2 separate regions of the Homo sapiens genome follow, and region 1 is linked to region 2. Evidence: fine-mapped QTL for protein levels in blood plasma. A gene starts in region 2. The other region holds a variant in brackets. All regions are shown on one strand. Distances are between the middles of the regions. Region 1 overlaps GLO1 (glyoxalase I). Region 2 holds the start of GLO1 (glyoxalase I).

Region 1 (11,956 bases), 21 kb after region 2:
CATGTCTCAGAGCCAGCACCTGCAGGTTGGCCCCTTCTCACACTTGGAATCTGTCCCACTTCCCTTTATGCCACACTCCTCTTCTACTTTCTTTGCGCGCGCACGCTCGCTCTCTCTCTCTCCTGCTTTTAAGGTCTTGTGTGATTACATTGAATCCACCTCAGTAATCCAGGCTAATCCCATTTTAAAGTCCACTGATGAGTGACCTTAATTTCCTCTCAGAGTCTCTCACAGCAGCACCTAGGTTAGTGTTTGAGAGAATAAGGAAGGACATCTTTAGAATTTAGTCCTTGCTTGCACCTCCCTCCAGGGACTGCAGTGCTCCCTCCTGAGACTGAGAACCAGTGCTGGGAGGACAGATCTCCCCCATGAGGCCTGCCAGCTAAAGTCTGTGTGATTGTGTGTGGTCGGGCCTGACAGATCATACATAAGACTTTGTCCTGCAGGTGGCTTCCTCAAGCAAACATTGTAATCAATAGAGAAGCAGCTACCACTCATATTAGCTGGGAAAGAAGGATGTTTGTTATTTTGGTAGTGTTCATAGTGCCTTGTTTTAATGTATACTTAGACCGGAATATGAAGTGGACATGGTCTTGCTGCTTTAAATTTTTTTTTTTTATTTTGGTATCACATCATGGCAGCCACAGAGTGACTTTATATATGTTCAACAGGAGAAAACCAAGGCCCAGCTGTGAGTACCAGGCCAGCACTTGGATGTGCAGAGCTACTTTTCTCTTTCTCAGCTGCTTGATAAAATCGAGACCTTTAGGACTGTAGCATCTGACTGAGAAAAGCAACCCAAATGTTCTAGAAACATGTAACCTGCCTGGCATGTGATTATAAGCTGCGAATAAAGAATTTAATTATTATATTTATTAAGATCAGTTTTAATAAGATAAAGTAGTTTTTAGGCTAGTTTTGTTTTAAATGAGAATTTTAATGCCTAAAAGAGTATGTTTCATTTACTTAAAATTTAGCAAAAGAGAAAAATATAATTTCCTAATGAGGCTGAATGAACTATATTTGTATTTTATATGATGTGAGTTATATAGGAGAAAGATGGCATGTGGCTCCAAAGTAAGTGGTCAGAATTTTCAGGCCTGTTTTGTCAAGCCATGGGTTTAACAGAAAAAAAAAAAAAATCTGTTAGGAAGCACCAGTGAGGTTCACAGACTTATGGTCTGGAAGGTACATACCAATGGTAAAGGGAGACCAAAACTTAGAGGCCTTAAACAGTTAATTACTCAGTGTCAGCTTCTCATCTACAACATGGGGTATGAATATCGACAGTAATACCATATAGAGTTATTACACCTAGTTAAGTCCTAAGTAGAATTATTAATGCTATTAATAATCTTAACTCCATGAATTTACATACCTTCTACCCTTTTCTCAGTCAAGCCTTCTGTTTCCTGATAAGTAAGTTGAATTTCCCAAAGGTGTTAGCAACAGTAACTTTTTACCCTTTTAGTTATTTAGGAGTCTAGGATCTTGTGAGTAACTCTTTGCTAATTTGCGTGGTCACCAGTAAATGGTTCTAGAAGGGCATTTATGCCTTCATTCAACAAATATTGTAGTGATCAACCTCTTTATGTGTAAAATCAGTGTCTTAGTTTGGGTAGCCCCAAAGCAGACTAGAGAGAATGGTGTGGTTTTAAGTTTTTGAGAAGTGGTCACAGAGAGCTCTGCAGAGTTAGGGAGAGAGGGTGATCATAGGTGTATACGAGTGGATTACCACTGTGGGCAACTGAGGTTCAATCCTGCTGGGGATTCTTTGAGGGACTTTGTGGTACCTGCCTCTGAATTGTCCCACCAAGGGACAGGGATGCCAGGTTTTTTATCGACCATTGGTTGAAGGTCATTCCTGCAGTGGAAACTTTCTGACACTTTGGACTTGCATCACACAGGGGCCTGCAACCAGAAGATACCACTGAGCAGAGAGCCCTTGCAAGTTGTAGGTGGTAGGTTAACAATTGTGTTTGTATCTTGTTACAGAAAGCACAATTAATGTTGGTAATAAATGGTAAAAGTGAAAGATGTTTAATATAAATATTTTTCCATAGGATTTTCTATTGCAGCAGACCATGCTACGAGTGAAGGATCCTAAGAAGTCACTGGATTTTTATACTAGAGTTCTTGGAATGACGTAAGTCAAGTACTTATTGGCACCTTAATGTTTAAATATATAGCTTTGCAAATCTAGAGAGTGTTTTCAGACCCATCTTAAAGTTTGTTTCAGAAGTAACAGAAGTTCTTTTGGCCAGGAGTCTGTGATTAGGCCTGGCTGGACAGGGCTTCTCTCGTAAGTTCTTTTTCTTCTCTATCCCAGCCAGCCTGAAAGGGCAAAACAAGACACAAATAGTTGCATTTTCTCCAGTCTGCCTTCTCTGAGCGCTCCCAGCTAAATCCTTAATGTGTTCAGACCCCTTTTGATGTTCTGGCCACTTTTAGCCTCTTGTTTACTTCAGAAAAGTTATAGATAATAAGAACTTACTACTCAGAAAACCAATGGGTTTACTTAAAACTGACCATCTGTTCTATTTTTCTAGGCTGTGTTTTCTTTTGCTCAACAGGTCATATCCACTGATCTTGCAATCCTAAAGCATACTTATTTTTCTAAAGCATGTTTATTTTTCTTTTTTTCTCCAGCTTTACTGAGGTATATTGAGAAATAATTTTGTCATATTGTTGATTTGTTTCCCTAAGTTATGTGAGCATTTTGCTTTTGAGCATATAGATACATGAATAATAAAATAATCTTTAAATTTAGTGCCTAGATAACTTCCATTCACATTGAGAGAAAAATTTAAGTAATATATGTCTATATTTAGAAAATTTGACCAGTTCAGAAAAATACAAAATGAAAAGTAATAGCTTCCCTCCCCAAGTTCTTCTCCCCAGAGATAACTGCTGTCCAGTTTCTTGTGATTTTTTTCTAGAAAAAGGTATTATGAATATATTTATGACATATTTAAAGGACAAAATGAAAACAGATTTATTGAACACTTTTGCCAGGCACTTCAAATGTTATTTTGTTCAGTCTTCACACCAGTCTTAGGAGGTAGCTTTTATCCCCATTTCACAGACGGAGAAACCAAAGCTTAATGAGATGAAGTTACTAGCTCCAAATCCCACAGTTGGCATATGGCAGGGCTGGAACCTGTATCCATTGTCTGATGGGCTCTAATGTAGACTTCCTGTGCAGAGCCCCCAAATAGGGTACAAGTTGACAGTAAGCTGGAAGATTTGAACAGCTGAGAAAAGCAAGTTGCAACAGTTTCATTTCCTTCAGTCCCAACTGATTGGTCCATGAGGGTTGTGTAGTCTGCTTTAGTAGGTGCAGAGATTGTTTTTCATGATTGGAGTATTTGAGGTGTTTGATACTTTATTATAAACATGTTAGAGTAAATCTTATTTGTGATAAGTCAATGCAAGGATCTAAGTGGGCCAAGGTCTATTATATAGCAGTGATAATGAAATAAAAGATTGGAAGCAGAACTCTAGAAACTTTCCATTTGCTATATGGCAATAACAGCCATTTGCTCTTATTGATTATGAACAAAGTCATCTTTGAATAATCTAAAGAAAATCATATATGCATTCTCATGCCACCTTACTCCTTGCCAAATAATCCTATACCATTTAAAGTCATTTAAGGTTCAGGACTTCAGTTATCTTTCTTAAAACCTCAGGATTCATAATTCATTCACTCTCTCTCCCATCAGTCTCTTCTACTGTCTCTTTCCCCTCAGAGAAGCGTAAGTCTTCTTTGTTCCAGAATATTTCTTGCCCTCTGCTCCTTCGCCTACCTCCCCATTGTCACTGCCATGCTTGCTACTGTTTTACCTGCTCACCTGCCATTCTCTCTCCCCAGTACAGTGTAATCCAGCTGATGCTTCCCCACTCTGCTGACATTGCTCTCATGGGACCTTTCCATATCTCATGACCTTTTCTTAGTCTTAATACTGTTTGACCTTTCTACAGTATCTGATACTGTTAGCCACCTTACTGTTGACATTCACGTCTTCTGTGATACTAGTCTGTCCTTCCTCCTTCTTTCTTACCACCTATCCTTAATTTCCTTTCCTAGATGTTTTGGCATAGTAAGAACTCAATAAATGTGTTTATTTAACTGAATGACATATTTATATATGTGTTTGTATGTGTGTATATATATGAAATAGCAACAAGGTTCTTTATATTTTTCAGTACAAATAAACACAGTTCTCTTTTGGAGATAGCCGTTTCTATTTATTAACAAGTACCATAATTTCAGCTAAATGTTACTATATTTACAGAATTGATGAATTACAGAAGTTTTCATTTTTGTATTTCAAATATTTACAGATGCATTTTTCATGATATTTTTTCACTGATTTTTCCTCCTGCTTATTCCATTAAAATAGGCTTACTACATATAGCTCTTCTTTTTAGTAAAACTTGAATATTAAGTTATGTTGATTATAGTATGAATTAGCCTTTCCTGTTGTTAATGATTCAGGCTTGTTGTTTTTTCATTGCAGGCTAATCCAAAAATGTGATTTTCCCATTATGAAGTTTTCACTCTACTTCTTGGCTTATGAGGATAAAAATGACATCCCTAAAGAAAAAGATGAAAAAATAGCCTGGGCGCTCTCCAGAAAAGCTACACTTGAGCTGACACAGTGAGTATGAGTTTCTATATTTATATATATTATAGATTTTTTAAGGTAGTTTTTAAAAATCTTTTTTGTTTTGTTTACTGACCAGTATAATTCAAACCAGATCTGCCTATGACTTCACATTTTTAATAATATATTGAAGTGTTTTTCATGCATCTTTTGATCTTTGTATTGTTCTTGGGCAAATGAGATGTGTTTTTTTTAGAGACAGGCTCTCTGAAGCCTCTAACTTCTAGGTAGTCTTCCTGCCTCAGCCTCCTGAGCACCTTGGACTACACATGTGTGCCACCACACCCAGCTAGTTTTTGTTTGTTTGTTTTTGGTAGAGGCATAGAGGCAAGGTCTCACTATGTTGCCCAGGCTGGTCTCAAACTCCTGGCCTCAAGTGATCCGCCCGCCTCGGCCTCCCAGACTGCTGGGATTATAAGCATGAGCCACCACGCCTGGCCCATTTGTCTTTTATTTTTATTTATTTATTTATTTATTTTTTGAGACAGAGTCTTGCTCTGTTGCCCAGGCTGGAGTGCAGTGGCGCGATCTCGGCTCACTGCAAGCTCTGCCTCCCGGATTCACTCCATTCTCCTGCCTCAGCCTCCCAAGTAGCTGGGACTACAGGCGCCCGCCACTACGCCCAGCTAATTTTTTGTATTTTTTGTAGAGACGGGGTTTCACCATGTTAGCCAGGATGGTCTCGATCTCCTGACCTCGTGATCTGTCTGCCTCGGCCGCCCAAAGTGCTGGGATTACAGGCGTGACCCACCACGCCCGGCCTCCATTTGTCTTTTAGATAAGAGAATATAAGACCCTGAAATTGTAAGATATTTGCCTGTTTGTCTCTAACTAATTTTTAGGTACTATAATTAGTCTTTCAGCATCCAAAATTTTGTTCTTTTATTATTTTGCTACATTTTGGATCCAGAAATGTGATATCATGTGTTCCTTTAAAAATTCTTCAAACCATTTTGTAATAATTAACATTCAAATTTGGTATTTTTATAACTTGAGCACTTAAAAATGTAGGCAATTTCTTTACATTGTTTATCTGCATACTTTAAAAGAGATTGATTTCAGAGTGTGTGATTTCGTGTGTCCCTTGATTCAAAATAAAGCTTTGGAATCAGGCAGGCTTAGATATGAGTCTGTGACTCTAAACAAGTAAGTGGCAGTTTCATCAATAGAATGGAGATGTTCACACCTAGCCCATGGAGCTGTTTTAAGGGTTTAAATGAAATATAAAGTACTTAGCACAATAAATGAGCATTATTATTATTCTTATTATTGTTCTTGTCCAGTACCTGTATTTACTGTCTCTTTAGTCTCGTTAAAATCATACTTTGGCCATTTGTCCTTTCTATAGTTGAAAACTTAATATTTTTGTAGCAGGGGTTAGGCCAATTATGTAAAGTAGCATATAAACGTGGTAAGATTTCAAAGATGTTACTTGCTTTTCAGAATATCTATTCCCTAGGACATTGTAGCTATGTTTTCCTTCCTTTTGTAGCAATTGGGGCACTGAAGATGATG[A/C]GACCCAGAGTTACCACAATGGCAATTCAGACCCTCGAGGATTCGGTAAGTTTGCCTGTTTTTATGTGATATATGTAGATTTGTGTGATTTTGTATTATGTATATAATTATGATTTTAATAAACCTAAAACATTAATGTCCTAATTAAGTATGATCAATTTATTAGAGATATGATTATTTTTATTTTCCACAAATAATCTTATTTAGGAGTTGTTTAATTTCAGAGTCTCGATCTAAAATTACACTTACCATCTCACCATGATTTACTTTTAAGTCTCAGAATTAATTTCCAGTAGACTTTTTTTTTTAAAAAAGCTGTAGTTAATACTAATCCCAGTTTCTGCTAGCACATACACTTCTGCCTTGATCTCCAGTCTCTCAATCAAGATGACAGTATTGCAGGCTTCAGCTGGCTGCTATAGTCAATGCCAACCACAAACCTATTAAGTATTAGTAAATGATTACTGTTTTTTGGTGTCGATTATTCTTAACTGATTAGACTGTATATGAGCTGATATTGATTAATTTTAAATAATTTATAATTCAAGGCAACTAATTAACTACTTATACCCAGCCCATTAGATCTATATTTGTTCTTTAATGTATTATAGATTTTGAACCTACCTAAGTCTGTTCCCAAGTGCCTTATGTTTTGAAATAAACAAGTTTTGGAATCTACTTGTGGTACTTGGACACCCTGTTATAATTATTTCTTCCTTCTCTCTGCTTTTTTCGGGGGGTATCACGTAAGGTCATATTGGAATTGCTGTTCCTGATGTATACAGTGCTTGTAAAAGGTTTGAAGAACTGGGAGTCAAATTTGTGAAGAAACCTGATGATGGTGAGTCTACTACTTACTGTGTTCAGGCCTGTCTTTAGTTGATATTTACTAACCACCTACAGAGGCCACTGTTGTAGTAAAACCCTTTTGGCTACAAGTAACAGAAGTCTCCACTTCAACCAGAGTTTTAAAAAAGAGAAATGATTGGAAGAATATCTGGGTATTTTAGGGAACTGAAAGACAGCAACTAGGGTGGCTTTCCAAGGCACTAGACACAGGACCTGGACAGCCATCAAAACCCTACGCTTCCTCTCCCACTGCCCGACCCCACCACTTTCTTTCATTGGCCACCAGCTTTCACTATTTCAGTGTATATCTTTCCGCCCAAAAATAAGTTCCTTAAAGTCCATTTTATCTGATGCTCATATAATGACACCAGCTCTCTTTAGTTTATAATCACATGGTATTTCTTTTTCATCTTTTATAACCTTTGTATGTCCTTAAGTTTTAGGTAGGTTTTTTGAAATAGCCTACGTATGGATTTTGCTGGGTTTACATGTATTGTTATTATTTTACTTAGATCTCTTTCTGAACTATTTCAAATTAAAATTGAAATATTAAATATTTCAGAGTCTCAATCTAAACATTTGAAATATTTCACTGTTTAATTTCAATCCTTTTTTAAAAAAATTAAAATACTTAATATCCAGTGCTGGGCGTGGTGGCTCACACCTGTCATCCCAACACTTTGGGAGGCCAAGGCGGGCGGATCACGAGGTCAGGAGATCCAGACCATCTGGGCTAACATGGTGAAACCCTGTCTCTACCAAAAATAGAAAAAATTAGCCAGGCATGGTGGTGGGCGCCTATAGTCCGCCTACTCAGGAGGCTGAGGCAGGAGAATTGCTTGAACCTGGGAGGTGGAGGTTGCAGTGAGCCAAGATCGCACCACTGCACTCCAGCCTGGGCGACAGAGTGAGACTCCGTCACAAAAATATATATATATTTAATATCCAAATCTTCTCCCCAATAAGAAAGGAATTTGCTTCACTCTGTCCTCATTGTGTCACTATTACCTAGAGTGGGATAGTATTGATTTTATTTTTTAAAGATAATAATAAATATATCACGGTGTTTGATCACTTTTTCTTCATATATCTCTTGTAGTGTCTCCTTTGAGACAGGATCTCACTCTCATCCAGGCTGGGGTGCTGCAATGGCACTGTCATAGCTCACTATAGCCTTGAAACTCCTGGGCTCAAACAATCCTCTGCCTCAGCCTCCTCCTAAGTAGCTAGGACCACAGGCACATGCCACCACACCCAGCTAATTGTTTTATTTTTTTGTAGAGATGAGTTCCTGCTATGTTGCCCAGGTTTGTCTCAAACTCCTGAGCTCAAGCGATTCTTTCACCTTGGCCTCCCAAAGCACTGGGATTACAGGCGTGAGCCACTATGCCCAGCCTTTTTAGCATCTTTTGGATTTTTCTGTTCTTTTATTTAAATACCTCAACCAAAATGGTCTTTAAAGGGGTTTTGTTTTTGTTTTTTGAGACGGAGTTTCGCTCTTGTTGCCCAGGTTGGAGTGCAATGGCACGGTCTTGGCTCACCGCAACCTCTGCCTCCTGGGTTCAAGTGATTCTCTTGCCTCAGCCTCCCGAGTAGCTGGGATTACAGGCATGCACCACCGTGCCTGGCTAATTTTGTATTTTTAGTAGAGACGGGGTTTCTCCATGTTGGTCAGGCTGGTCTCAAAATCCCAACCTCAGGTGATCCGCCTGCCTCAGCCTCCCAAAGTGCTGGGATTACAGCTATGAGCCACCGCACCCAGCCCTTTAAAGGGTTTTTAAGGCAAAACTTTTGAGATTCTGTGTAACTGAGGATGATGCCTTTATGTCTGAAGGACAGTTTTATGGAAAAGCCTAGGTTTAATTTCCTTCAGTCTTGAAAATACTCTTCTATTTTCTTTTTGCATATGATGTTGCTGTTGAAAAATCTGTCAATTCATGTTCCTTTGTATATTCTTCTGTTTTATTCTAGAAGCTTTTTATATTATTTCTTTGTCACTGCCTGCATTCTGGGAGATTTCCTCAAACTGGAATACCAATTAGCTAATTTTCTCCCAAATGTATCTGTTCTGATATTTAATTCATCTATTTTGTTCTTAAACACCTGTTATAATTTTGATCTCTAATTTTCGCTTAGTTTGCTTAATATGTTCTTGTTCTTTTTTTCATATTGGTAATATTTCATATTGTTTATTACTTTTTTTTTTTTTTGAGACAGAGTCTTGCTCTGTTGCCCAGGCTAGAGTGCAGTGGTGTGATCATAGCTCACTGCAACCTCAAACTCCTGGGATCAAACAATAATCCACCTCAGCCTCCTGAGTAGCTGGGACTACAGGCAAATGCCACCATGTATGGCTAATTTTTTATTTTTTGTAGAGACAGGGTCTTACTATGTATCTCAGGCTGGTCTCAAACTCCTGGCCTCAAGTGATCCTTCTGCCTCAGCCTCCCAAAGTATTGGGATTACAGATGTGAACCACCACACCCGGCCGGTCATTACTTTTACATGTCTAAATAGTCCTTGGGTCTGGGCATGGTGGCTCATGCCTGTAATTGCAGCACTTTGGGAGGCCGAGGCAGAGGATTGGGAGGTTCGGGAGGATCACTTGAGGCCAGCAGTTCAAGGCTGCAGTGAGCTATGATTGTGCCATTGCATTCCAGCCTGGGTGACATAGGAAGACCTTGTTTCTACAAAAAGGTTTTTTTTTAAATTATCTGGGCATGGTGGCACATGCCTGTAGTCTGTATGCCTAGCTACTCGGGAGGCTGAGGTGGGAGGATTGCTTGGGCCCAGGAGTTGGAGGCTGCAGTGAGCTATGATCCACTGTACTTCATTTCAGTATAAACGACAGAGCAAGACCCTGTCTCCAGAAAAAAAACAAAAATAGCTCTTGGTCCATTATTCTAATATTTCTTCTGTTTGAATCTACAGTCCATTGCTTTGGGGGTGTTTTATGGTTATGTTTCTCAAATTATTATTTTTTGCCTCTGAGCTTTTTTCCCCTGCAACTGTTCGCTATTCTAACACATCAAGCAGTGTGAATAGGAGAATGGCCAGATCCCTGTCCTTAACAACCCACATGATCTCAGGACAATGGGCTGGATAAGCCTAGGCCAGAGATTCCTAGGCACCTAGAAATGAGACTTAAATTTATTTCACCTTCCACAAAACACCTCTTCAGGTTGGATCTTCCCACTTCATCCCTCAGGGAAGAGTATTAGTAGGAGACACTTCCGATAGTGTTATTCCCTAGCCCTGGGCGTGGAGAGAGGGCTGGGGAGATCATTCGGCCCTACCAGTTTTTCTCAGTTTCTCACAAGCACAAGGCTCCTGCACTGCCCTTGTTTACTGGTAAGGACATCTGAACAAGCGAGAGGGCAGGTGCCGATGCACACAGCAGTGAGGGAGGAGCAAGAGCAAAACTCTGTTCTCTCGCAGCCATTATGCACTGCCTTCTGGTCCAGGCCAGAACTACCACCTCCCACACAGCCCAAGTTAAAACAGTCACCCGGCCCCATCCTCACCCATTCTCCCCAGCTGTCACCAGCCGGGTTTCTTTCTTTCTTTCCTTTTCTTTTCTTTTCTTTTCTTTTCCTTTTCTTTTCCTTCCTTCCTTCCTTCCTCTCTCTCCCTCCCTCCTTCCTTCCTTCTCTCTTTCTCTCTTTCTCTTTCTCTTTCTCTTTCTCTCTTTCTTTCTTTTTCCTGCATTTTCCATCTATGTTCCTCTAGGATTGATCTTGGAGAAAGGAGGCAGAGATAAGAGTCAAACCAATTCAACATAATGGTCCCCAAATAAATTTCTGAGGTCATATTTTTCCATTTAAGCAAACAGCTCTGACATACTAGACTCTCAATCTCAGTTTTGAATTCCTGGGAGAAAGACTCTCGCAGAGCTTGGGTTGCCTAGGATAGTATTTAAAAGGGTTTGTATGACCCAAGCATCTGGGTCTTTTGGTTGTGGGGGTAAGCCATGCTACCAGCTCCCTTCAGCACCTCCCTATTTTCTTTTTCTTCTTTAAAATAAGACAATTTCTGTAACTACTGAACTGGTAGTGTGGTATCATGAAGGTGAGGCAAATGCCTGATACCTAAAAGATGCAGCCAGTCCCACAGTTTATTTCAGGAGGGCTGGTATTTGCAATGTGTGCAAGATAACATTTTAGTCATTATGAAAAGTATGACTTTTCATACTTTTCTGACAATAAGAATTTTTAAAATTTAAAACTGTAAACAAAATAATGTACTTCATTAAAATGCAAAGTAAATCTTTAATTAATAAAAGTTTTTAAGGCCAGGTGCAGTGGTTTGTGCTTGTAATCCCACCACTTTGGGAGGCAAGGCAGGAGGATTGCTTGAGGCCAGGAGTTTGATAGCAGCCTGGGCAGTACATTGAGATCCCGCCTCTACAAAATCAAAAAATTAGCCAGGCAAGGTGGTGCGTGCCTGTCGCCCCAGCTACTTGGCAGGCTGAGCTCAGGAGGTCAAGCCTGCCTTGGGCCATGATCATCCCATGCACTCCAGCCTGACATTCAGAGCAAGACCTTGTCTCAAAGAAAGAAAAACATTTTTATGGTGTTTTCTTTTTTAGTCTTTTCAATAATGAAAATTTTCATTTTACAGGTAAAATGAAAGGCCTGGCATTTATTCAAGATCCTGATGGCTACTGGATTGAAATTTTGAATCCTAACAAAATGGCAACCTTAATGTAGTGCTGTGAGAATTCTCCTTTGAGATTTCAGAAGAAAGGAAACAATGTGATTCAAGATATTTACATACCAGAAGCATCTAGGACTGATGGATCACTGTCCCGATTCAAATTATTCTTCAGTCCATTTCCCCTTCCTATTTCAGCTGTTCCTTTTCACCTAACTGTTCAGTCATTCTGGTTTTCAAGCAGTGCTTTATCTCATGTCCTTGAATAT
Region 2 (11,956 bases):
TGTGGCAGGGCAGCTTTCCACCCTTTGGCACAGAGCTTGGTGTCCCAAAGGCCACGAAGGGTTTTAGAGCCTCGAACCCGGACATCTTCCAAGACTCTTTTATATTATGACAGACAAGCCAGTCCTGCCTCAGCTCTTCTACCAACAGAAATCATCCTGATTTAGGGTGGGTCCTAAATCTATGACTAGAGTCCTTATCAAAGAAAGTGGAGAGAGATTATAGACATGAAGACAGGGAGGAAGGCCACGTGAAGTTGAAGGCAGAGATTAGAGACACATTTCCACAAACCAAGGAACTCCAGGAGCCACCAAAAGCTAGAAGAGGCAAGGAAGGATTTTCCGTAGAGCCTGTAAGGGGGAATGACCCAGCTAACACCTTGATTTCACACTTCTTGCCTCCAGAATTGTGAAAGAATAAGTTTCTGTTGTTTTAAGTCACTGAGTTTGTGGTAATGTGTTACATCGTCCCTGGGAAAATTAATACACCCCTTCTACCAAAAAGGAGAATGTGAAAGTTTTCATGTCAGTGTGAAGTGTTTTATAAAAATCCTGAAACACAGAGTTGAGGAGGGCTCTGAAAAGAAGGGTCTCAGGCTTGTATGACTGACGACAAAACTATCACAGAAGATTCTGTGAAACTACAACCTTGTACAAAGGCCATCAAAACTTTATGCAAAGAAATACTTCTGCAAGGACATCCGCCCAGGAACTCTGTCCATCCTTAGACGGACATCATCACCCTTACTGTTGATCATTGTAGTCAAGGATAATAGTCTCAAAACAATTATGTAATCTTCCTCATTTTTCATTTAAAAACTTTTGTTTTCCTTTATCTCCCTGAATATGCACATAGTTTACTATGGCACGCAAATTCCCATTGCGATGCCCTACGTTCAAATAAATACCTTTTTCTTTTAGAGAACCTCTTTCTGTTTTTTAGTTTGACAAAGCACTTCTAAACTCTTTGGAATTTGTGTCTTCTCAAACAGGGACTATTTCTAAACTATTCCTTCCCCACTATCACTGTCTTCCCTTTTGTTTCTCTATGTGGTGCTTGTTACTTTTTAGTTTTAAAAAAAATGTGCGGTGAAATATTTAAAATATACAGAGAGTCATAAAGAATAATACAACTCTCCATTTGCCCAACATCCAGCTTAAGTTATAAAACATTGTCAACACAGTGAAATCCACAGTATATCCCTCCCCTATGTCTTCCTCTGCTGCCCCTTAGAGGAAATCATGTTCCTGAATTTGTTTATTCCCAGGCACTTCCTGTACCATTACTAGATGTGTATTTAGTCCTAGGCAATACGTTATGTCATTCTGCATATTTTTAAGCTTTGCAAAAATGGTATTGTGCTATGTGTATTCTTCTGCAACTTGTAATTTTTTTCATTTCTATTATGAGATTTATCCCTGTTGGAATAGTAGCTCTGGTTCATTCATTTTTACTTATGTATAGTAGTCCACTCAATGAAAATAACACAATCTATCTATTTTCCTACGGTTGGACATTAAGGCTTTATCCTTTTTTCTTCTTTTATTTTTTTTGCCATTCAAACCATGTCTGTTATATATGTCTCATGGAGTGCAGACACAATAACCCTCTAGGATATATACTTAGCAGTGGATCCCAGGATGTACTCTCTTCAACTTCATTAGATACTGCCAAATTACTTTCCAAAGTGTGTCCACCAGCAAGTGTTTATGCATTTCAGCTGTTCTACATCCACACCAACACTTGATATTGACAGGTTTTTAATTTTTTAATTTCTGTCAATCTCAAGAGCATAAAAGAAAACTCATTTCTATATTAAATTGCATTTACCTATTTACCAGAAAATTGGAGCAATTTTTTTTTCTTTTACTTTTTTTGAGACAGAGTCTCACTCTGTCACCCAGGCTGGAGTGCAGTGGCGTGATCTCAGCTCACTGCAACCTCTGCCTCCCGGGTTCAAGTGATTCTCCTGCCTCAGCCTCCTAAGTAGTTGGGATTACAGGCACATGCCACCACACCTGGTTAATTTTTGTATTTTTAGTACAGACGGGGTTTCACCATGTTGGTCAGGCTGGTCTCAAACTCCCGACCTCGTGATCCTCCTGCCTCAGCCTCCCAAACTGCTGGGATTACAGGCGTGAGCCCCCACTCCCGGACTCTCTCTCTTTCTTTCTTTCTTTCTTTCTTTCTTTCTTTCTTTCTTTCTTTCTTTCTTTCCTTCTTTCTTTCTTTCTTCCTTTCTTTCTTTCTCTCTCTCTTTCTTCCTTCCTTCCTTCCCTCCCTCCCTCCTTCCTTCCTTCCTCTTTCTTTCTTTCCTCCCTTCCTTTCCTTTCTTTCCTCCCTTCCTTTCCTTTCTTTCCTCCCTTCCTTTCCTTTCTTTCCTTTTTTTGAGACAGGGTCTCATTCTGTCGCCCAAGTAACGTGATCTCACCTCACTGCAACCTCCACCTCCCAGGTTCAAGTGATTCTCCTACCTTAGCCTCCTAAGTAGCTGGGATTACAGGCATGTGCCACCACACCTGGCTAATTTTTGTACTTTTAGTAGAGGTGGGGTTTCACTACGTAGGGCAGACTTGGAGCAATTTTTCATATGAATATATGCTATTTCTATTCTCTCTTTTGTAAATTGCCTATTCTTCTTTTTGGCCATTTTTTTCTATCGAGTTATGTGTCTCTTTCTCATTGATTTCTAACAGTTTTTACATATTCTGGATACTGAACCTTTGTTGGCTATGTGTGTTGCCCATACTTTCTCCTGGTCTATGGTTTAACTTTTTACCTTTTAGGGTGTGTTTTAGCTTTCTTTTATACTTCGTGCTTTTATATCTCATTAAGAAACTTCTTTCTTTCTTTCTTTCTTTTTTTTTGGAGATGGAGTCTTGCTCTGTCACCCAGGCTGGAGTGCAGTGGCACGATCTCGGCTCACTGCAACCCCTGCCTCCCAGGTTCAAACAATTCTCCTGCCTCAGCCTCCCGAGTAGCTGGGACTACAAGCACACGCCACCACGCCTGGCTAATTTTTTGAATTTTAGCAGAGACGAGGTTTCACTGTGTTGCCCAGGCTGGTCTCAAACTCCTGAACTCAGGCAATCCACCTGTCTCAGCCTTCCAAAGTGCTAGTGAGCCACCGCGCCCAGCCTTCATTAAGAAATTTCTACCATGAATTCACAAAGGCATTTTCTAATATTTTATTCTTCAAGGTTTTAAGTTTTGCCTTTTCACATTTATGTCTATAATCCTCTTGGACTTACGTTTTCCTTTATGGTATGAAATAGAGATCTTTTTTTATCACATACATAATCAATTGTCCTTACCCCATTCATTGAAAAAATAATCTTTTCCCCACTAGCAGTAAGATAACACATACCAAATTTATATATATATACACACACACAGAGACACAAACATGGTATGTGTGTATATTGGTTGCCTATTAATGCACAACAACTTATTCCAAAACTTAGCAGCTGAAAACAATAAACATTTATTATCTCACAGTTTCTGTGGTTTAAGAATCTGGGAATGGTCCAGCTAGGTAGTTCTGGATCAGGGTCTCTCACAAGACAGTGACTAAGAGGTTGGCCAAAGCAGCAGTCATTTTGAAGCTCTACTGAAAAAGGACCCACTTGCAATTTTACTGTGTAGCTGATGGCAGGTGTCTGGCCTTCACTGGCTGTTGACCAGAGACATTGGTTCCTTGCCACATGCATCTCTCCTTAGAGTTGCTCACAACGTGACAACTTGCTTACCCTCCAAGTGAGAGATCAAAGAAAGTGACAGAGCTCCCAAGATAAGAATCACAACATTTCATTCTCTAATCTCAGAAATGACATGAAGTGACACTTTATCATGTCTATCATGCTCTTTGTATCAGAAGTGAGCCACCAAATCCAGCCCATACTCAAGGTTAGGGAAGCAGACAAGACTGTGAAGACCCGGAGGTGGGGATCATTGGGGTTATCTTAGAGTGGTCTACTACAGTTTCCATTTGTTGATCTATGCCAGCCTCCCTACCATACTGTCTTTTTTTTTTTTTTCATCCTGTCTTAATTACTGTAGCTTGTACAAAGTCTTGTTATCCGGTAGAGAATGTTCCCCTACTTAATTATTATTCAGTATATCTTTCCTATTTGGGGCCCTAAAAATAGAATGTAGAATCTGCTTGTTCATTTTAATTGAAAACCCCTGGGCCAGGCACAGTGGTTCATACCTGTAATCACACTTTGGGGAGGCCAAAGTGCGAGGATCACTTGAGCTCAGGAGTTCAAGACCAGCCTGGGCAACATAGTGAGATGCTGTCTCTACAAAAACTAAAATAAAATAAATTATCTGGTTTTGGTGGTGCATGCCTATAGTCTTAGCTATTTGTGAGGCTGAGGTGGGTGGGTGGGTGGATTGCTGGAGCCTGAGAGGTTGAGGCTGCAGTGAGCTGAGACAGCACCACTGCACTCCACACTGGGCAACAGAGTGAGACCCTATCTTGAAAGAAAGAAAGAAGAAAGAAAAGAAAGAAAGAAGAAAGAAAGAAAGAAATAAAGAAAGAAACAAATAAAGAAAGAAGAAAGAAAGAAAGAAAGAAAGAAAGAAAGAAAGAAAGAAAGAAAGAAAGAAAGAAAGAAAGGACTCTGTTGGGATTTTTATTGGAATTTCATTACATGAACAGATTAATTAGTAAATGAATTGATATTTTATGATATTGAGTCTTCCTATTCATTTACATGCTTTATATCTCACATAGTCTGAGAAGCTCACCAGAAAGATTAGTGCAAAAGGGCTGGGAACAGTGGCTCATGCCTGTAATCCCAGCACTTTGGGAGGCCGAGGTGGGCGGATCACCTGAGGTCAGGAGTTTGAGACCAGCCTGGCCAACATGGTGAAACCGTGTCTCTACTAAAAATACAAAAATTAGCCAGCATGGTGGCAGGTGCCTGTAATCCCAGCTACTTGGGAGGCTCAGGCAGGAGAATCGCTTGAACCCAGGAGGTGGAGGTTGCAGTGAGCCAAGATCACACCACTGCATTCCAGCCTGGGCGACAGAGGAAGACTCCATCTAAAAAAGAAAATTAATGCAAAAGAAGACAATTTGGGGGTCTTTTCAATAATTCAGTGGTAACACACAGTATATGGAGAGTTTGTGTATTGCTCCAATTCCCGAGTTTAAAAGGTTTAAGGTCTAGTTCCATATAGAAGTCCTGCAGTTCTAATAGACTGTGTTTTGATGAAATATCCTCAGTAAGTTAGTATGAGGTATGCACAACATTTCTGCTGAAATCCTTATCCTGCCTATCATTTTGCAGTGGACATCCATGGTTCAGTTTGCCTGGCAATCCTCCCTTCTCATAAGAACATCATCGCTCTTCTTTTAGGGAACTAACAGATCCTCCCCAAACTCCAATCAGGTGGTCCTAATCCAGGTTGCCAATCGCAGTGCTTCAATCACAGGAGTAAGCACAGGTCCTAGGCCAGGCCAATCACAGCTCCTTCTTGGATTTTCCAATTTGATAAAATCCAGGCTGGCTGGATAAAATCCAGAGGGAGAGTTTACTCCCACTCCTAGTGAGAGAACAGCTGCCAAATTTCTAGTCTTATGGAGCTGGTGTCTGACAAACTGAAGCTGCGATGCAGAAAAAAGCTGAGATGAGAGACGGGGACATCTTGGTGGTGGCCAGGTGGCTAGTGCCATATACATCCCTGCCCAACCTCATTTTGGTTAGGTGAGCACCAGTCATTCCCATTTATTCTTTTAACAACAGGAAGTATTTAATGAGCATCTACTATTATGAGCCAATCATTGAAGACACAGTGATGACTAAGCCTTCCAGTGAACACAAAATATATATTAATGTAAAAAGTACTGCAAGTTATGGACATTTGGAACCTAAGTAGGCAAACCATGACTTAAATCTCATTTAGGCTGGGCACAGTGGCTACACCTGTAATCCCAGCACTTTGGGAGGCTGAGGCGGGAGGGTCACTTCAGCCCAGGAGTTGAGACCAGCCTGGGCAACATGGTGAAACCCCCATCTCAAAAAAATACAAAAATTAACTGGTCTTGGTTTTGCAGCCTGTAGTCTCAGCTAATCGGGAGGCTGAGGCCAGAGGACAGCTAGAGCCCCGGAAGTCGAGGCAGCAGTGACTGCAGTAAGCTGAGAGCACACCACTGCACTCCAGCCTGGGCGACAGAGCGAGACACTGTTAAAAAAATTAAAAAAAAAAAAAAAAGAAAGAAAGAAAGAAAAGAAAAAAGAAAAAGGAAAAGAAAACTTATTTAATTCTCAACAAATCCTGTTAGGAAGCTCAGAGAGGGTCAGTAATTATTGCAAGTTTCTAGCGCTAATATATAGCGGAACCAAGACTTGAACATAGGTTTTCGACTCAACAATTGTTTTAATTACTCTGCGCTGCGTAAACTGAGAAACCTCTGAATCCTTACAATTTTAAAAGAACAACTTACAGTTTTCAGTTTCCATCAGATTCCAATTTTCTACCAAATTGCAGCCCTGAGGTATGAATGGTTACCAAACTTTAGTTAAACAAACAAAATTAGCTCATTAAGTAACAGAGAAACCACTCTGCCCAGCCTGCATTTTTTTTTTTTTTTTTGTATGAGTTTGCCTCCTTTATGCGCAAGGCTCCTTGGGAGTTGTAGTCTGAGGCATAGTCCTGTGGGTGGAGGCGCTGACTCACTGGGACCCAATCAGCAGAGAGTCAACTTGCTCTCCGCGCAGCGATTGGCTGGAAGTCAGCGGTCTCCCGCCCGCGGCGCCATCGCGCCATTCCTAGTTAAGGCGGCACAGGGCCGAGGCGTAGTGTGGGTGACTCCTCCGTTCCTTGGGTCCCGTCGTCTGTGATACTGCAGCGCAGCCATGGCAGAACCGCAGCCCCCGTCCGGCGGCCTCACGGACGAGGCCGCCCTCAGTTGCTGCTCCGACGCGGACCCCAGTACCAAGGTGGGCACAGGACCGAAGGGAACGGCTCCCCCAGCTCCGCTGGGCCGGGACCGGGCCGCATTCTATCCAACCCCATCCCGCCGCCGCTGCAGGTCCGCCGGCCTCGGGCGGACGGGAGTGTGATGGGAAGAGGGATAATGGTGTTTGATGGGGCGATCGTGGGGCCCGCGAAGTGTGGAGGGGATCTGTTGCCTCAGCTAGTTTCAAAGACTGCGACCCTGTTTTGAATTGGCTTGTTTATGTTGCGACGGTGGCTGGAAGCCAGGCCAACCCAGGGTCAGCTTTCCCAAATCAGTCGCCAAGGCCCACGAGAACAGTAGTTTCAGAACTCCCAGAAATAGGTTCAAAGATGCCTGTCCTGTACCAGTCCTGCCCAGCCTCGTTTTTCCTTACCACCCTGACTGCAGTCTTAACTCCTGCAAACTAATTTGATCGCTCTAAGTTTAACCGCGCCCAGAATTTCACTTTTGCTTGCTTGGCCTTTGCTGTGGGTCACAACAGCCCTTCTTGCCTTCCTCATCTTCGTGGGGCCCAGGAGAGATTACAGAATCATAGAGTTTGGATCTGAAAGGAATCTTAGAAATTCCTTCTCTTACCCTCTCGTTTTACAGTAATGACCCAGTAAGAGAAATGACCTGTTGCATACAAAGGCTTTCACTTACCGAACATGTCTTTACTGGGTAAGAATCAGTGTAACTCACTCAGGTGTGGTGTTTCGGTTGCCTTGTTAAGATCAGACACAGTTGGCGGGCGCGGTGGCTCACGCCTGTAATCCCAGCACTTTGGGAGGCCAAGGCGGGCGGATCACGAGGTCAAGAGGTAGAGACCATCCTAACACGGTGAAACCCCGTCTCTACTAAAAATACAAAAAAATGAGCTGGGCGTGGTGGCGGGTGCCTGTAGTCCCAGCTACTCGGGAGGCTGAGGCAGGAGAATGGCATGAACCCGGGAGGCGGAGCTTGCAGTGAGCTGAGATCGTGCCACTGCACTCCAGCCTGGGCGACAGAGTGAGACTCTGTCTAAAAAAAAAAAAAAAAAAAAATTCAGGCACAGTAACCGCTGTTTATTCCAGTGAAGTCATCAGTGTCTGTAAACACCTTTGTATTTATTTATTTGACTACATCATTTGTAAATTCCTTGAAGATTGAATATGTGCTTCGTGCAGACCTTTAAAAGGGGTAGATAAGTGGTCCATGACTCTGGTCCCTGCTTGTTCTTTACCTTCAGGGCAAAGAGTCAGACACATCTCATTGCTAAAACTTTTGACTAGCACCTGGTACTTGGCTTAGGAAAAATGTTAGTCATTGCAAAATTAAGGGGGAAGGTAAAAAAATTCCGTCATGCCCATCTCACTTGTATATCCCTTAATATTAATACCTGGTTTTTTCATATAATGTAAATTGAGTCACTCAGTGTAAAGTATTTTCCCAGATAACTAGGGGTTTTATGTAATGGGGTTTTCAAATAAAAAGGATTCCAGGGATATCTTTATAAAATATACTAAGTAAATGTCCTTGCAGCTTAATTTACATTCCACAGTATCTAAATTTCTCTTGATGATTCGGAGTAATTAATTTTGAGATCAGTAATTTTTGGCCATGGGAGACATAAAATGGAATACATAATAATAGCTGGTATATATTGAGTGTGCCAGGCCCTGGCTTGGTATTTTAAGTACATTGTTTAATTTAATCCTAACAACAACCCTATGAAGAAGGCATAATTATGATCTTCATTTTACAAATAAGGACACTCAGGCACATAGAGGTGTTGAGTGATTTGCCCAGGGAGGACCCCACACTTCCAACCTCCACCCTGTTCTGCTTCTGGGGTGCTGACTCCAGCAGTAATTTTGGAATTTGCCATAAAGGAAAATAAAAAACCTCAATGAAGGCTGGGTGCAGTGGCTCATGCCTGTAATCCCAGCACTTTGGGAGAGCGAGGTGGGCAGATCACCTGAGGTTAGCAGTTCGAGACCAGCCTGGCCAACATGGCAAAACTCTGCTCTACTAAAAATACAAAAATTAGCTGGGCATGGTGGCGGGCACCTGTAATCCCAGCTACTTGGGAGGCTGAGGCAGGAAAATCACTTGAACCCATGAGGTGGAGGTTGCAGGGAGCCGAGATCATGCCACTGCATTCCAGCTTGGGTGACAGAGTGAGACTTTGTCCAAAAAAAAAAAAAAACCCTCAATGAATTAAATTCAGTTTGATCACTTGATACATTTATGCTATATGTAAAGAAGATGGTAAGTACTTTGGGGATACTGGGATAAACAAGATGAGGTTCCCTCCCTTCACCAACTTATATCAACTCTAATATACAATGGACCTGGGGTTAGTGTGCTATTGAAATATAAATCACCCTGAGAGCACCCTGGGAGGTAGAGGTTTTTAAAGGTAGCATTAGTGGAATGGGGTATGCACAGGGTATTTGGAGCCTGAAGACCTGCATTTGAATCCCCACTTCTGTTGTTGGCTGCAGTGACCTTGCCAGGGCACTTGGGCTCAGTTTGTAGAAGGAGCATAAAGATATCTCAGAGAGCTGCTATGAGGATAAAATGACATGTATTATGTTCTCTAAACTATGAAGAGTGATACAATTCAAGGTTGTATTTCAGCTGTGGGGATCAGGGCACACATCAAAAAGATGGTGGTGATGGGCCTATGCCTTGATAGATTGGGTAGGATTCCAGCAGAGTACATGGGAAGGCATTCTGATGAAGGAAACATCTTAGCAAAAATGTGTTTTGATACGGGGGGAACCCACCCCAATATTTCAACGTAGGTTCTTTCTATTTTCCATAAGTATTGGCCAGCTGAGAAATAAAGAGTACAAAGAGAGGAATTTTACAGCTGGGCTGCCGGGGGGTGACATCACATATCAGTAGGACTGTGATGCCCACCTGAGTCTTAGACCAGCAAGTTTTTATTAAGGGTTTCAAAAGGGGAGGGGGTGTAAGAACAGGGAGTAGGTACAAAGATCACATGCTTCAAAGGGCAAAAAGCAGAACTACTAATAAGGGTCTAACAAAGATCACAAGGCAAAGGGCAAAAGCAGAACTACTGATAAGGGTCCAACAAAGATCACAAGGCAAAGGGCAAAAGCAGAACTACTGATAAGGGTCTATGTTCAGCAGTGCACGTATTGTCTTGATAAACATCTTAAACAACAGAAAACAGGGTTCGAGAGCAGAGAAGCGGTCTGACCACAAATTTACTAGGGTGAAGTTTTTTCCCCACCCTAGTAAGCCTGAGGGTACTGCAGGAGACGAGGGCGTATCTCAGTCCTTATCTCAACCTCATAAGACAGACATTCCCAGAGCGGGCGTTTATAGACCTCCCCCCAGGAATGCGTTCCTTTCCCAGGGTATTAATATTAATATTCCTTGCTAGGAAAATAATTTAGCAATATCTCTCCTACTTGCACGTCCGTTTATAGGCTCTCTGCAAGAAGAAAAATATGGCTCTTTTTGTCCGACCCCTCAGGCAGTCAGACCTTATGGTTGTCTTCCCTTGTTCCCTAAAATCGCTGTTTTTCTGTTGTTTTTCAAGGTGCGCCGATTTCATATTGTTCAAACACAGTTTTACAATCAATTTGTACAGTTAACACAATTATCTCAGTGGTCCTGAGGTGATGTACATCCTCAGCTTACGAAGATAACAGGATTAAGAGATTAAAGACAGGCATAAGAAATTATAAAAGTATTATTTGGGAACTGATAAATGTCCATATTAAAATGAAATCTTCACAATTTATGTTCCTCTGCCACAGCTCCAGCTGGTCCCTCCATTCGGGGTCCCTGACTTCCCACAACAGTTTTAGGATGGTAGAATTGCAATGCAGGGCAGGTACTGGAGAGTTAGTTAAATGTTATTGGTTGCAGTTCAGGTTATCTAAGCAGTGGTGGAAGAGGCTAACATGGTAGGTTGGGGCCAGATTGTGGAGACAGCTTTGAGTGTCACATCTAAGGAAGTTAGATTTTATATACATAGTGGGGAATGAGTCAGGGTTTTGAAGTATTCTATAAAGTAGATTGGAGGGATCCAAGTCTGGAGGTGATTAGGCCACTTAAAAAGCTCTTCCAGAAGGTGAGATAAGTGATATGAGGGTCTCGTTTGTAAAGAAGACAGCAGCAATGGCACAAAGTCGACTTGTTTTTTGATCATTTGCATCTTCATTATAAAGGAAGTCCAGAGAATGTATGGCTATGTCACATTTTGGGCAATCTCTCTGGGCTAACTTTCTTTAAAAGGTCAGATTCTCCTGGCAACAGAGAGAGACTCCGTCTCAAAAAAAAAAAAAAAAAAAAGGTCAGGTTCTCCTTCCAAGTAGTGATCTGGAGATCTTTTCTTTTTTACTATCTGTATCTGTCTCCACTAATACAGTAGACAATGTCCTCAGTGTTGCCATTATTTCTACCACCACTGCCAATGTCCATTTTCACATCGTTCCATATATAAATATATGAATATATAAAAATATAAAAAATTAATATATATTAATATATAAATATATCTATAAATATATGAATATATATATATATGATGGGGTCCCTCTCCAATCAGGTAGATTGGTGGAATTGAATGCAGTAGAAAGGAGAATAGGGAATGGAAAGGAGGAAGGAAGAAGGACAATGGCCAGATAAATGGCTGACTATTCAAGGCATAGAGAATCATAATATATATAAAGGCATAATGACATCAGAGAACTGAGGCAGGGACCTACGGGTAACACAGTGAATGAAGTTATAAGCAGTGGGACTTGAGGGAAGGGTGACCAAAACAATCATTAGGGTACTCAAAGAAAAGATGAGAATTCCCATTATATTCATTTGTTTTTCTCACCCTGTAATGGTTGCTATTTAAGTGATAAGGGTATGAAATAGAAAATGTTTGAGATGACCGGTTTAGGGGAGTGGTGATAACCGTTGGTGTTAGAGAAGTATGCAGCTACATATGTGGTTGCTTTTGGGACTGTCTCTCAAATGTGTTGAGGAACCACTGA

The links. PIP is the chance, under the fine-mapping model, that this variant and not a neighbour inherited with it causes the effect. Protein levels are from antibody-based Olink assays in UK Biobank. Linkage for the fine-mapping came from a reference panel and not from the study's own genotypes, which makes the PIPs less certain.
Region 1: its variant is fine-mapped to the plasma level of the GLO1 protein (UK Biobank, PIP 0.97). The variant lies in the coding sequence of GLO1. If it changes the protein, the assay may bind it differently, which can mimic a change of level.

What each region holds. Positions count from the first base shown.
Region 1 is chr6:38,677,082-38,689,037 of GRCh38, reverse strand. It overlaps GLO1 (glyoxalase I), which reads left to right. Exons shown (of 6, transcript NM_006708.3): 2 at 2,064-2,146; 3 at 4,524-4,664; 4 at 6,163-6,230; 5 at 6,937-7,026; 6 at 11,655-11,956. The coding sequence ends at 11,743. Among named protein-coding and RNA genes, the nearest start is that of GLO1, 20 kb to the left of the region's middle. RefSeq lists enhancers at 118-197, 248-297 and a silencer at 7,598-7,810. The variant A/C (reference allele first, on the strand shown) is at 6,186.
Region 2 is chr6:38,697,963-38,709,918 of GRCh38, reverse strand. It overlaps GLO1 (glyoxalase I), which reads left to right and starts at 6,774. Exons shown (of 6, transcript NM_006708.3): 1 at 6,774-6,948. The coding sequence starts at 6,865. RefSeq lists enhancers at 6,498-6,657, 6,838-6,937, 6,958-7,007, 7,040-7,632.